2 linked regions of the Homo sapiens genome follow. The protein of the gene in region 2 purifies or fractionates together with the protein of the main gene of each other region. This does not show direct contact. Each region holds a gene or a part of one and is shown on either strand. Other genes may lie near its edges.

The links.
Region 1: the proteins of CCDC146 (region 2) and RAB3IP purify together in Homo sapiens (affinity purification with mass spectrometry; 3 studies listed by BioGRID and IntAct, with this or other methods). This does not show direct contact.

What each region holds. Positions count from the first base shown.
Region 1 is NC_000012.12:69,821,172-69,823,921, forward strand, and holds the end of RAB3IP (rab-3A-interacting protein isoform alpha 1), read left to right. Parts: 3' UTR 1-2,028; downstream 2,029-2,750. UniProt on the Homo sapiens protein: Guanine nucleotide exchange factor (GEF) which may activate RAB8A and RAB8B. Promotes the exchange of GDP to GTP, converting inactive GDP-bound Rab proteins into their active GTP-bound form.
Region 2 is NC_000007.14:77,125,426-77,129,255, reverse strand, and holds part of CCDC146 (coiled-coil domain-containing protein 146), read right to left. Parts: intron 2,751-3,830; exon of another isoform or gene 2,484-2,750; intron 751-2,483; exon of another isoform or gene 530-750; intron 1-529. UniProt on the Homo sapiens protein: Essential for sperm flagellum biogenesis and male fertility.

The sequences.
Region 1 (2,750 bases), on a different chromosome or scaffold from region 2:
CCCCAGATTTAACCGCAGCAGCTCAGCTTTTATCTGTATCTGTTGGAGCTCTCTAGGAAATGTCAATACCAAAGCAAACCCAAATCACAACTAGATTAGATTACTATTCAAGAGAATGATTCTCTACCGAAACTCTGCAAAATGGGGATATCAAGAGAGTTGGAAAATGTAAGACGTAAAGACCATAATCAGGAAAATACGCATCATATTTGTTATTCACTGAGAGGGAGGAATTTCCACTTAAATCCTATTTCCAGCAGCTGGATTGTGCTCTCAGTGGAGTGCTCTGGATTCTGATTAATAGAGATTTTCTAGTCCTCCCAGCAACTTCCTTCTCAATTCTCTTCACTTTCCGCAGATCTCGGCACCAGGGTTGCATCTTGTGGGCTCCATTGTGTTTTCACACAATGTGCTATTTGTCCTTCACAGTGTTTTGGTTTATTTTTCTGTTTGTCCATCTTGTTTTTGAACAATTGCCAGCATTTAAAAATGAGGAAATCTAAAATCTGCATTTCAAGCTGCTCTTTTTTAAAATGTGCCGTTTCGACAACACTGAGCCCACAGTCTTGAATGACAACACTTGGGTGGAGCTGAGTGACTCCACCTGTCGGGTGGCTACACCCTTGCTCAGGGTATGCACTCCATGGTTTGCTCTATGGCCCACCATCCTGGATTGTCTCCCTGACACCAAGGCTAAGGGACCCACTTTACTCACTTATCTGCTGGGCCTTGGAAGTATTTCAGTTCGGAACCCCAATTCTAACCTTAGCTTCTCAGGCCATTAAATGAAATCTCATTTCTATGATGCTTCCTGTCACATCACTGTGCTGCTGAGAACATGAAGTCTGTGGGTGAATTGGTGGACGGGATCCAGAATCATTACTTGGCAGTGGATTATAGTGTGATGACTCATTTCCGGTGGTCTCCAGGAGACTTGGCTGGGAGCTTCTCTTGGAGTCTAGGGTTAGCCAGAGGCTACATGTTTTAGGCATCTTAATTCATATTTTATCTAAAGGCATATAAATCCTTAAAAAAAATCATTTGACTTCATCCTTGCTCCCTACATCCAGCCAGTAACCATTGCTTTGTTTTACATCGCGTGCTTCAGGCTTTACTACAGCCTACCTGGATTTTGCAGTAGCTTCTTAAACTGCTTAAACTTTGGATATTGCCCCAGCCAACACATTCTGCCACAGAGATCTCTCTGAGTTAAATGGGATTGTATCATGCCCCACACCCAAGCAGATAGAAACTGTCAATAGATACACTTAGAATGAATATGCATGGAATCAAATTACATTCAGAATCTACCACTATAGGTAGTGAATACAACAGGATAGCAGAGGCTGGGAAGGGTAATGGGGGTTGGGGGGTGGGAGGATAAAGGGGTTGGGTAATGGGTGTAAAAATCTATAGAAGGAATATGATCTGTTGTTTGGTAGCACAATAGGGTAAATACAGTTAATAATTTATTGTATATTTCACAATAAAGGAGTGGATTTGGAATGTTCTCAACACAAATGATAAATGTTTGAGGTGATGGATACCCCAATTACCCTGATTTGATCATTATACGTTGTATGTTTGTATCAAAATATCATATGTACCCCATAAATATGTACAACTATTATGTATCCATAAAAATTGGAAATAAACTACCACCATCTTTCTTCAGCCTATTTTCCTATCTCCTCTCGCACCATACTAGGCACACAATCTCTGTACCTGTGCTGTCTTCCAAGCCATTGCTCATGTTTTAAGAAATATACTTATTGTTTAATATATCCTGTACCACTGTAGGATGACTGTAGTTAACAATAATGTGTAGTTTCAAATAGCTAATAGCTGGAAGGAAGTTGTTGAATGTTTCCAACATAAAGAAATGATAAGTGTTTGAGATGATGGATATGCTAATTACCCTGATCTGATCACTACACATTATATGTATGGAAATATCATTGTGTACCCCATGAATATGGGCAATTATTATTTGTTAATTAAAAAAATAAAAAAAAGACCCACCCACTGTTTAAGTGTATCTACATCCTAGCTCTTTGTGGCACCTTTCCAGATCCTCCCAGATTAAATTACTGTCCTTTCTCTGTTCTCTTGAGACATTTTCCCAGCTATCAGTCTGCCCTGAGTTACAGTCACTTGTGTTTTTCTCATGCCCTAGATTTCAGTTTATGGAGGGCAGGGACTATTATTTATTCATTTTTTTATTTCCTGCACCCAGCAGATAGCTTCACACAATTGTTGAAAATTCATTTCTTTAAACAACTTGATGACTTGTCCTTATAGATCTGACAGCCAGTGTGACCGTCAAAAGAAGCTCCTAAACCTTTTCTTTTCTAAGCTAAACTTAGTTTGCTCATTTTCAAGTAACAGTATATGTGTGTAAAATATGTTTGGAATTATGTCACCTACAATTCTAATAATGAAACAATAGACAAATTTGGAAAATGGGTATTCTACAAGGCAATGAGCCTGGACTATAGAAAAAAGTCAAAATCATGAAGAGCACAAATCAAAATGACAAGGGGACTGTTCTATAGTTTAAAAAGACATAACCAAAGGCAGTGCATGGAAATCCATTGGATCCTTAATCAGAAATCAAAAGCCATAAAAAATATTTTGGAGACTGGAAGAAATTACATATGAGATGATAATATTACATTTCTTTGGTATAATGATGATATTGCAATTACATGTGAAAATGTCCTTATTGTTGGGACACATATACTGCGTTA
Region 2 (3,830 bases):
TGACAATTGGGTGGGTAGGGTAGACAGTGTGGATATGCTGCACAAAGGATGGAGTGAGACAGTGCAAGATTTCATCATGTTCTCAGAACTGTGTGCAATTTAAAATTTACAAGTTATTTCCAGAATTTTCCATTTAATATTTTCAGACTGCAGTTCATCATGGGAAACTGAAACCTCAGAAAGCAAAGCCAAAGATAAGAGGGGCCTACTGTACTCCATGTTTGTGCAGGAGTAGGGCTGACCCTGTTACTTACGTAGTTTCAAACATAGAATTAGGATCACCTTCTCTAGTTCTCTTCTACATGGGATTTCGGCTACACTTTACAGTTTTTGTGGGCCCCTTTTGTTATGGCCAAAAGGATCAGGCTGTCTTAAAGATTTTGCCTTATGCTGCCATTCACTTCTAAGTACTTGGGGCTGCCCTCGAGGTAAAATATCAAGAAAAAGAGAGAAAGAGTATCGGGATTCCCCCACACACTCTCTTTCCAGTTCCTCTATTCAGAGAGACAGTGTTCTCTTTTATTCTTAGGAAACCTCACAGCCTGGCAGTGGCAGTGCAAATCTATGTTTGGAGCTGGCTTTGTGGCAGGGCCAGCAGACCAAAACGGAAAGAAAAAAATCGGGATTTCCCTACAATTTCTGTGTGGCAGGAGCCCCTTTTCTTCTACACAGTTCTCAATTCAGCCTGCTTTTAAGTGAAAGCCAGAAGATAAAGGAGGAAAAAAGAAACAAGGAAACTGAAACTTATTGGTATGTCTTATTTCTTAAACTGGGTGTTAGGCATAAAGATGTTCTTTTTACTATTATTCTTTAGACTTTATTCATACTTTATTCTTTTGTATGAATGAATTACTTTGCACAGAAGGAAATGAAGCAAAAATAAAAGGAAATAAAAATCGAAAACCTGGCCCATGACCATGGAAATTGGTCGAGTTCTGACTGAAGCAAATCCAAAATTGTTCTACAGGGAACAAGAAAAATTTTATTGTAATCTAGAATGTAAAGGATTTTCAGAAAAGAGAACTCCCGCTGAAGATGAGCTATAAATAAAAATTTATAAGCCATGACAAGAAATAAACCACCATGAAACAGAGTTTGTTTATGTAGCAAAAGAGAAACAGCAACCTCATAACAGAACAGACTAGAATAATTTTGCATCAGTATGTTTAAAATAATTAAAAAGGCAAGAGAAGGTAAAGAAACCACAGTAAAATAAACGGAGCAGTTTAAAATAAGAGAAAATAGATTTTTTAAAGAACCAAATAAATATTCTAGAAATGATAATATAGTCATTGGGATGAAAAATTCAATGCAGATATTAAACAATGGATTAGCAAAGATTGGGAAGGAATTAATGAATTAGAACATAGATTTGAGGAAATCATCCAGAATGAAATACGAAAAGATGAAGAGGCATAAATCATATAAACACAGTTAAGGGATATGGATGACAGAATGAGAAATTAAAATACATGTCTAAATGAGAGCTCCAAAAGTAAAGAATAGAAAGAGCAAGGAAACGCTGAAGGTTTATAAATTGGAGACTTTAGACAAAGAAAGCGTATTGACTTCTGAGCAGGACAAATAAAACTAAACCATATTAACAATATTCTAACAATCTTCCATAAAATAAAAGAGGCAACATTTGCCCTTCTAATTTTACCCTAATATCAAAACCAGAAAAAGACATGAAAGAATACTTTGGACCAATATCCTTCATGAAAATAAAATGTAAAAATCCTCACAAATTTAGCAAGTTGAATCTAGCAATTTATAGAAAAGATAATGATGGCAGTGGCTGGTGCCATCACGCTGGCTGCAGTAGGGAGGAAAGGCTGAGACTGCAGACCCAGGCCTCCCACTCCATGGGGCAGTCAGGAGCCCCACCCTCCTGGACGGTGCTACAGCCGCCCAAACTGCAGCTGTAGATCTGAGCCTCCCTGCGCTCTTGAAGTGGGGCTGGGAACAGGCAGGATCTGCCCTCTTGGGTGCAGCTGCAGCCGCCTGACCAGCAGCTGCTGACCTGGGCCTCCCACAACATGGAGCAGGCAGGAGCTGGGGAATCCCGCCCCTGCTGAGTTGGCCTGCGGGAGCTCCCTGGGTGCAGCTGCCACTGCCCTCTCACCCACGGGACCCAGGCATCTCTGCAGCCTGTACCCTCTGGTGCCCCGGAAGGCCCCCCATCCCTGCAGGCTTGGGGTGTCTGCTCCCGCTGCCTGACCTCTCTCCTCTCCTGGAGCTGGCTCAGATCTTGGAGTGGGGTTGGGGTTGAGCCCTGGGGCCATGAATGGCAGCGGGAGGCAGACAGATTCTTGGGTGGAAGGGGGCAGGTCCCCAGTAAGGCTCTACCTTCAGTCCAGGGAGGGCCTGAAGGCTGGGGGCCAACTGCTGGTCCTGCATACCAGTTTGGGGACTCATGGGGCCTCTTCCAGCAGCCCATGGCTGCCCATGGACCAATCAGCATGCACTTCCTCCCCTCTGAGGTCCATAAAAGCCCTGGGCTCAGCCAGAGCAGGGCAGACGATGGCCAAAGGACGAAGAGGATAGACAGACTACACAAGGACCAGCTGCAGAAAGGAGCTACCGTCTCTGCCGAGAGCTTCAGAGACAACCTGCCAGCAGACAGGAGGCACCCTCTCCAGGGCCTCCTCTCCACTGAGAGCTGCAGACATTGGGACAACCAGTAGTAGAGAGGAGCTACCCTCTCCAGGGCCACCTCTCTAATGAGAACTGAATGCTGGACAGATGATCTTCCTACAGAGAGGAGCTACCCACTGTGGGTCTCCTCTGAGCTCTTGTAACACTTAATAAAGCTCATCTTCGTCTCGTTCACCCTTCACTTGTCTGCGTACCTCATTCTTCCTGGATGCAGGACAAGAATTCGGGCAAAGGTGCTGTGGCCACAGAGGTTTCTGGCCAGGAAATTGACAACCCAAAACTCCCTGACAATAACATGATGAAATGTAGCTTATTGAGGGAATGAAACACTTGAAAATCAATCACTGTAATACACATATCAATAAATCAGAAGAAAAACAATATGATCATCTTCATAGATACAGAAAAAGCATTTGACAAAATGCAACATTCACTTATGATAAAAAGTCTAAGCAAATTAGAAAGTAAACTTCCTTAACTTGCTAAAGGGCATCTTTAAAAATCTACTGCTAACTTCCTAATTGTTGTTGAAATTTCCCTCATAAATAGGAAATAAATCAAGGATTTTTGCTTTTGCCACTCCAACTCAATATTGTAGTGGCGGTCTTAGCCAGTGCAATAACACTAGGAAAGAAAAGCCATACAGATGAGAAAGGAAGAAATAAAACTGTCTATTTGCAGTTTCACATAGAGATTTCAAATAGAATTAGTACCTATATATATTCATTAAATACTTCTCAATGTTGATAGTTATTAGTTAAGATTGTTGAGTTTATTAATATTTCATAAGAATAATAGAAGTCATAAGATATATCTCTTTTTAAATAGTTTATAATTCAGAAAGTTAAATTCTTATGGCTTTTCTCTTAAGCTAAATTGCTGAATTCTTTGTTTTGGTTACCTTTTCTTCTGAAAACTCTCTTATGACCTCTGCTGTCCATTTATTGAACATAAATCATTAAATAAAATATTCGTTGACATTTATATCTAGATGGTAAGAAATCTTCTGCCCATCTGATTATTTGAGTCAGTTTTAGGAAACAATATATGCTAAGAAATGCTTTAAAATTGTTTTCTTATAAATGTAATATATTTTCACTATTGATAACACACAAAAAATTGCAGTAACCACTCATCATATCACTGCTTAAAGATAACAACTGTTATCAAGT